Regions from separate parts of the Homo sapiens genome. Here region 2 is linked to region 1. Evidence: fine-mapped expression QTL. A gene starts in region 1. The other region holds a variant in brackets. All regions are shown on one strand. Distances are from middle to middle. Region 1 holds the start of KIF20B (kinesin family member 20B). Region 2 overlaps KIF20B (kinesin family member 20B).

Evidence for each region. PIP is the estimated chance that this variant, and not a neighbour inherited with it, causes the effect.
Region 2: its variant is the best candidate, but not a certain one, in a credible set for the expression of KIF20B in fetal neocortex (Walker 2019, PIP 0.58).

What each region holds. Positions count from the first base shown.
Region 1 is chr10:89,699,160-89,703,563 of GRCh38, reverse strand. KIF20B (kinesin family member 20B) reads right to left here and starts at 1,974. Exons shown (of 33, transcript NM_001284259.2): 1 at 1,884-1,974. RefSeq lists enhancers at 1,296-1,812, 1,813-2,328 and a silencer at 2,373-2,452.
Region 2 is chr10:89,720,367-89,724,770 of GRCh38, reverse strand. It overlaps KIF20B (kinesin family member 20B), which reads right to left. Exons shown (of 33, transcript NM_001284259.2): 14 at 668-807. Among named protein-coding and RNA genes, the nearest start is that of KIF20B, 21 kb to the right of the region's middle. The variant G/AACTG (reference allele first, on the strand shown) is at 2,008.

The DNA.
Region 1 (4,404 bases):
GTTTCTATGATCCGGAGACTCTCCACTGTGCAACATCATTTAGGCATGTAAGCCCCTCTATGATTCTTTCCTCCCCGACTCCCCATTCCCCTTGCCCTCTTTCCCCTCTAGATGGTGGCCCCTCACCCTGGTCTAGAAAAGGTCCCAAACTGAGACGGATTTCCTTTGCCTACAATCCTGTCAAAATCCTTGTTTATTCCTGCCATCTTGTTGTCAATCTTTTTCCTTGATCAGGCTGAAATTCCTAAACGTATCACAAGAACATAGTTGACTTTTTTCCCCTAAATTGCAAAAAGACTAAGGAAAGCACTGATCTAGATCATGGGTAAGGGGGTGCAGAGGGGGGAGCATCTGCAAAACGTTAAAGTACCGGCCTGACATTTCATAACACAGAGTTCATGGAAATGCCCAGAAAACTAAAAAACACCTGTGGCTTCAAATAATAATTTTTGGTTTAAAGAAAAGTGTTGATAAATCTTTTAAATTGCTGAATTAAAAAGAATATTCCTATGTACTAAAAGCAGTTATAATAAAGTATTTGTTCATATGCTCATTTTTCAATGAACAAACTACTTCCTAGCATTTCTAAAAGTGTTCAGACTTACTGTAACTTCTTGCGATTTTAGATGACTTCTACTTATACGTGGCCTTCCCAACTAAACTGGAAACTTCTTGATGGCAAGAACCTTGCCTTATACCACTCTGTATCCCCTATAACAAATTCAGCGACTTATGCAGGGATAAAGACTACCTAATGACTTAAAATAATGGTTATAAAGAAAATACTATTCCAAAAAAAAAAAAAAAAGTCGGTCCTAGTCTGTAATATTATCTTTCGTGACAGCAGGCTCCAAGACCTCATTTTTCATTTCAAAAGGCTGCTCTGACTGGAAAACTGCATATTTACCCTCTCTCCAATAAGAATCCACAATTGGAGACTTTGGTGAAAAATAGCAGAATCTGTTGCTGAATGAGGTTTCTGAATGTGGTCTACAACACAAAGCCTCAAAAAAAGTCTTCACAACTAATCGATGAGTATTTTATGTTATTTTTACAATTTAAAATCTGGAGTCTTGGACATGTAAGATAAATACACTGTTACACTACCTAACCCATAAGGCGTGAACTTCTGTAAACTAGTAGTTTAGCAAGAAATATAAGAGAACTGTGCCAGACATGCATCACTGAACCAGCGAGCGAATCGAGATGGAGAAAGCCTTCTAAACTGGGGAATGACAGCAGTCACTGTGCCACAAACTCTTCAGCCTGGCACTGCAAAACCCTAGAAGGGCAAGCCCCAAGGACCAGTAGGAGTAGTCTGGAAATAAGTGCACAGAGGCTACCACAGGGCTCCCCCCGCAAAAAGGCCGTGTTACCTACCAGCCGAGCAAACTGCTCACCTCAGAGCTTCAGAAAACTAGGTGTGGCAAAACAGGCCTGTTCCTCAACAACAACAGAAGCAACAACAATAATAATATTAATAACTGCAAACATTTAGTACCTACTGTGTGCCAGCACTAATAACTTTACACATTACCATTTAATCTTCACAAAAGCCGAAAGAAATAGACACTTCATTGCAGCCTTTTAACTGATAAGAAAACTAAGGTACAGAGAGAGATTAAATGAATTGTCTTGCGTCACTCAGCTAATTAGCAGTGGAGGCGAGATTTAAACCGTAACCGAATTAGTATGACTCATTCCTCGCTGCGTACCCCGTGTTCGCATCGCTCCGCAACCCAGTTCCTGACAGTAACCTCCACTGGGGTATGAGCCCTGTCGGAACATGTCCACATTGCCAAAGCCGTTTCCCCACCTTAGGCCCCATACATGCGCAGTCACCCACCTCCTTCCCCACACATTCCCGCGGGTCACCTCCTCACCTGCAAACTTCGCCTGACTAGCCAGACCCGCGAGCAGCACTGCGATGTTACCGTTTTCAAATTCAAACAATGGCGGCCAGGGCACCGCACTGAACGCTGGGAGTAGGTGGGGCGTCCAGAGCTCCGCCAGGGAGCGTAGCCGGCTCGCGCTGCGGGCTTTCCAGTGGCTACCGGAAGAAGCTCTCCAATATGGGGGCGGGTCTTGAAACGCGGGCAGCCAATGGGCGGAAGCAGGCGTGGGCCGCCCTGGTGCTGACGGTCTGGTTTGCCTCCCAGCTCTGCTAGCCGGGCTTTAGTAGTGCGCTTTCTCGCGGCTGTCATAAGTACCACGCTGTTGACTGGGACACCGATCTCCAATTCTGTCCTTGAGGCAATAAAGATGTGGCGAAGGCCCGAGGTGAGGCCACTGCCACTGCACTTAGTCCTGCGACTCCCCTAAGGACGGGCCGAGGAATGGCGGGCTAGCCACTTCCCAGTCCTGTCCCTACGGGGCAGAAAAAGGCTCGGCATCCCGGGATCCGGAGGGTCACTTCCCTCGCTGCATCCCCATTGTGCAACTGCCAGTCTAAAAATTGATATAGGTAAGCTTATGAATGCTAAAACTAATGAATGCAAGATGCTAAAACAAACAATTAACTGAAAGGTTGTAGGGAAGAGGATGTTAGTATCTCAAAGAATCACCCTACAGATCATTTCTTATTATAAAGGGAAAATAGAATTTTACACTGAAGAGATTTATTAGACATACCTTAACCAAGTGAAGATACTTAGCATCGCTAATATCACCCGATAGTATTTGTGCTAGAAATGTTTGACATTAATCATGAGGAAACAATCAGAAAAAAACAATGTAGAATATTCTACAAGACAACAGGCCTAGGCTCTTCAAAAATGTCAGTGTCATGACAGGAAAAAGAAAAAAACGAAGTGGAAAATTACTTTAGTCGAGAGTCAAAAGAAACCAAATGAAATTTGTGAATCTTGGCTGGTTCATAGTTTTTAAAAAAAAAAAAAAACTTCGAAAGACATTTGTGGACAACTGGGGAAATTTAAATATGAACTACATATTAGATGATATTGAATCAGTTTTAAATTGATTGCATGTGAGAATTAATTTGTGATTAAGTGGAAGAATGCCTTTGTTTTTGGAAGGCGCTTGCTAAAGTAATTAGCAGCAAAGTGTCACAGTGTTTGCGGCTTACCTTCAAAAGATATGGCAAAAAAATAGAGAAAGCAAATGTGGCAAAATATTAGTAATTGGTGAATCTAGTTGAAGGGTATAATGGTGTACATCGTACCAGTCTTGCAACTTTCTAAAATAACAGATTTTATAAAATAAAAAGAGGAGGGGGGAAAAGGAATAGAATTCTGATCTTTACCATGGCCTCCCAGGTCCTGCACAATCAAGTGTCAGCCGACCTCACTCCCCACTAACTGTACAGTAAGTTGATCTGCTCTGGATACCTCAAACACCAACTTCTTTCCAGCATGTATGAACCTTTGCATGGGTTGTTCCCTGTACCTAAATTCTCTCTTCTCCATTCAACACGTGGCACTTCCCTTCATCATTTAGGTTACGTCTAAAATAGTACCTTCTTAAAGAAGACTTTCCTGGCTACTGTATCTCAAGTGAGCACTCTTTTTTTATTTGCAGGTTCAATTTCATTTTTATACTTTTTACAACTAGCAATTGTTGTTGTTCCCCCACCCTGTAAAATCTAAGTTCTGTGAGTAGAATAACTGTGTTTTGTTTGGTCGCTAATGTATCCTCAATGACTCTCTAACACAAGACAAGCAAATCAATATTTGTTGAACAATGAATGAAAGCTGATGTGGCTGGGTAGAGACCATGGGGAGGAGTCAGGGGAGTGAATCTGTAGGCATGGGCCAAGGCCAGACCCTGTAAGCCTTAGCCAAGTTACTGACTTGAGTATTACGAAATGCTTACTGGATAACCAGTTTTAAGCATGGGCATGGTGCAATCCAATGTGCATCTATCTTTTGAAAAGGTTAATCTCCTGGAGAAACTAGAGGCAGCCAGGGAGGATGCTGTTGAACCAGTTAGGAGGCTGTTGCAAGAGATCCCAGGAAAAGATAATGATAATGTGGACTTGGAAGATGGCAGAGGAGTTGCAGAAAAGTATCCAGATTTTAAAGGTACTTTTTCCGACGTTTTTCATTTCAGCACCAGCTGCTGGGTTTTTCCCTTAGGGAGATGCAGAGCCAGCTTGATTGGGAAGTGCTTAAGATTTAGTACCCATTCCAAAGAATTCCATCTGTGCCCTTGAAATGAATATTAACATAAAATGAAAAATTTGGTAAGTTACATCAAGCTGATTTTTCTGCCCTGGCCACAGTCTCTACTGTTAGTAATAGCTAACTTTCTTTATGCCAGGTAGTATTCTTAGCACTTTATACTCATTTAATCCTAACAGTAACTCTGTAAGGCAATTTGTTGTTGTTACAGCCAATTAATAGAAGAGGAAACTGAGGCATGGAGCTAGTAAGGAAATAGTAAAGG
Region 2 (4,404 bases), 21 kb before region 1:
GTGGTGTGTGCCTGTAATCCCAGCTACTCAGGAGGCTAAGGCAGGAGAGGCTAAGGCAGAAGAATTGCTTGAACCCAGGAGGTGCAGGTTGCCGTGAGCCAAGATCGCACCACTCAATACCAGCCTGGGTGACAGCACAAGACTCCATCTCAAAAAATTAAAATTTAAATTTAAAAAAGAGAGAAAATTTAAATAACCATGCATGGGATTAGTTACAGCTATATTCTTTTTTTTCTTCTCTGAGACAAGAGTCTCACTCTGTCGCCCAGGCTGGAGTGCAGTGACACAATCTCAGCTCACTGCAACCTACACCTCCCAGGTTCAAGAGATTCTCGTGCCTCAGCCTCCTGAAAGCAGCTGGGACTTCAGGAACATGCCAGTACGCCCAGCTAATTTTTCTATTTTTAGTACAGACGAGGTTTCACCATGTTGGCCAGGCTGATCTCGACCTCCTGACCTTCAGTGATCCGCCTGCCTAGGCCTCCCAAAATGCTGGGATTACAGGCGTGAGCCACCGCACCAGACCAGTAACAGCTATTTTCAAGCTTGTATAAAGAGATCAGAATTCAGAAGCCACCTAATATAAAAAGTAAACTAAGTAAAAAAAAAAACTAAAAAACTAAATAAAATTCTCAATTTTTACCTGGACATGAAATAAATAACTTACTTAAAGTCAGCTTCCCGTTGAGCCCAATACTGAGTAAACTCCTGTGTAACTTCTTCTCGAATTTTAAATTCCAAGGTTAATTTTTCCTTTTTTTCATTTATCAGTTTTTTTTTCAAGTCTTCTATTAAGTCCAACAGTTTCTATTACATGTAAATGATAAAATTCTTATAAAAGAATAAATATATCCCAAGAGAAATACCGTCCAACTGTTCAAAAAATAAAACTTTACATTTAGTCAATTGTAATTCTGTGTCCTTTTTAATAGTGATAATGTTCTCACTGAAAATTATATGTTTGCAAAGATTTGTTAACTGAAAAATCAGGTTGGCCTTTCCACATTTTAGAAATAGACCTTTGGTAACTCGTCTCACTGTTTAGCTATACTAAGAAAATAAGTAAAGTTAATTAGTGCATTTATTATCTATCAAGAACTACTCTGGGGAGTTCCATATTTGCTTCATTTAATCCACAACTTTCTGTGAGCTTGGTATCATCCATATTTCACAGGTGGGAAGCATAAGGATCAGATCTCTGGTAAATGCTAAAGGTTGAGTTTAAAAGTGGCCTGTAAAAGTCTAAAGCCCAAGGATTGCATACACCAGAGAAGTTGCTAAGAACACCCACTTACTAATCTGTCAAATAAAGATGTTACATAAACTTATATTAGGCTTTTATAACTATCCAGATGTCAACAGCAATTCTATAGCCTTTGAAACACATACATAATCATGAAAAATGTGCAATATATAAATAAAGCAATAAATAAAACACTTAACATGACCATTATACATTCATAACATAAATTGTAGCATTAAGGAAACAGCTACATATTCTTTTTAATGTTTCTATTTAAAGTTACTCAACAACAAATTAAACAATAAACTCTAAGCTACAGATCTTCCAATGTCTCAACTTTATATTTGAAAATAGTTCTACAGCTATCCAGACTTTGAAACTCTGCCTCCAAGAATTTATACTGAAAATAATTATAATATAACCCCATGTTCTGGTTGTATGAATGCTGATCACAGTGTTGTTGTTTTGTGATGGTAGTTGTGTTTAAATAATGAAAAAGTGAACCCAACTCAACCAATGTTAAAGGATTGGTTTAATTATGGTACTACCATAAACTACCGTAATCAATGATAACCTATATTAATAATTCATACTTTTCACAATTTATTTTTATATAAAGAATACCAGGTTACAAAACAGTAATATATAATAAAAATCCATTAACATTCATGGTAGATTTGAGAGATCTTTATATTTAGATTTTCTTTTTCACTCTACTATAAATACATAATACTATTTTAATAATTTTAAACTACATACTTTCT[G/AACTG]AGTAAAACAATAAATAATAACTATTGAAGGAGACATCAGAATGAATGTGGAAAAACCTTGGGAAGTTTGTTTATTTTATTTATTTATTTTTTTTGAGACGGAGTCTCACTCTGTCGCCCAGGCTGGAGTGCAGTGGCTCGATCTCGGCTCACTGCAACCTCCGCCCCCCAGGTTCACGCCATTCTCCTGCCTCAACCTCCCGAGTAGCTGGGACTACAGGCGCCAGAAACCACGCCTGGCTAATTTTTTGTATTTTTAGTAGAGACAGGGTTTCACCGTGTTAGCCAGGATGGTCTTAATCTCTCAACCTCATGATCCACCCACCTTGGCCTCCCAAAGTGCTGGGATTACAGGCATGAGCCACCGCGCCTGGCGGGAAGTTTAATAGTTTTCAATAATTAGGTTTTATCATTGTTAGCATCTGATAAAGTTTTTGCTGAAAAAATTTAGGCTGGCTATTACAGCTAAACGAATTTAAGTATATGTATGCTAATACCAAGGTATTTTATAATGGTTTTTAAAAGTCCCAATCCTTTAATTAAAATGTCAAGAAAGGGCTGGGCACATTGACTCACATCTGTAATCCCAGCGCTTTGCAAGGCAGGAGGATTGCCTGAGCCCAAGGGTTCAAGATCAGCCTGGGCAATAGAGCAAGGCCTCATGTCTACAAAACATTTTTAAAAATTAGTTAGGGGTGGTGGCATGCATCTGTGGTCCCAGCTACTCAGGAGACTGAGGCAAGAGGATCACTTGAGCCCAGGATTTCGAAGCTGCAGTGAGCCATAACTACACTATTGCACTCCAGCCTAGGTAACAGAGCAAGACTTTGTCTCTAGAAGAAAAAAATAAAGCATGCCAACACCTAATCATATTGATTTTTAAATGTCAAATATTAGACATTTTGATGAATTTCCTTAAAATATTTAGTCAATCTTATATGATAAGCATTTATACTATATAATCCATCATAAACTATAGCATTAAATATTTTTCTCTAGTAATTTCAGAAATTTTACTAACCAACATTATACAAAAATTTCAACTTTGAAATGAAAAAAAAAAACTGGGTTTTTTGGTTTGTTTCTTTGTTTTTAAGACAAGGTCTCACTCTGTCACCCAGGCCAGAGTGCAGTAGTGCAGTGATGGCTCACTGCTGCCTAGAAATCCTGGGCTCAAGCAATCTTCCCACTGCAGCCTCCCAAGTAGCTGGGACTACACCTGTGCATCATCATGCCTAACTAATTTTACTTTTTTGTAGAGATGGGGTCTCACTATGTTGCCCAGGCTAGTTTTGAACTCCTGAGCTCAAGCAATCCTCCTACCTCAGCTTCCCAAAGTGCTCGAATTACAGGTGTGAGCCACTGCACCAGCCAAACTAGACTATTAAAGGCTCCTTTCGTCACTGAGGAGGTACTATTTAATACATTACAGAAGCCCAAGTAACACGGTCTAATCACATAGTGACCAGATAAAGTGGGACTTGTACTACATCTGAAGCTATCATTCTTGTTTCCAAACATATGTTCAATAATTGCTTTCAGGGACATGAAGGTAAATTATTAAAATGAGAGTATTTAGCCTAATACATCATCGTTCTACTTATACTTCTGCAATCCAGAAGAGTACTGTGATGTGTGATGTGTCAACACCATTAAAGCACACCCATGAACACAGGTCTACTAGTGTTTGTAGGACACTGGTAAGAGGACTCCATCTATACTCACGGAGTTATGGCCAATTAAAGATGGGAATAGGTGGCCAGGTAAGGTGGCTCATGCCTATAATCCCAGCACTTTGGGAGGCCGAGGCGGGCAATCGCAAGGTCAGGAGTTCGAGACCAGCCTGGCCAACATGGTGAAACCCCATCTCTACTAAAGATACAAAAAAAACTTAACTGGGTATGGTTACGCATGCCTATACTCCCAGCTACTCAGGAGGCTGAGGCAGGAGAATCGCTTGAACCCAGGAGGCAGAGGTTGCAGTAAGCCGAGATCGTGCCATTGCACTCTAGCCTGGGCAACAGGGCAAGACCCTCTCTCAAAAATAAATAAATAAATAAATAAATACTATAATTGGACAGAAGCTAAAAAAACAACCGTTAAATCTTATTTATTTATCATAATAACAAGACGACAAACAATTAGTGTTTTTGAAGATATGGGATCATAGGTACTTGGTAGATATTTTTAACACTTGTACTTGAGACTGCAAAATAAAGGTCTGATGGAATACATAAAATCACTTAGTGAAAGGATACTCACATGGTCTATAAGTAACACCCCACAGATAATATGGTTTTGCAATACAGATCTGAAATACTGTTATCTTAACCAAGTGAGCAAAACTTAGCATCTCTAAGAATGGAAAAATCAGACATCATGTGGCTCTTGGTGTGA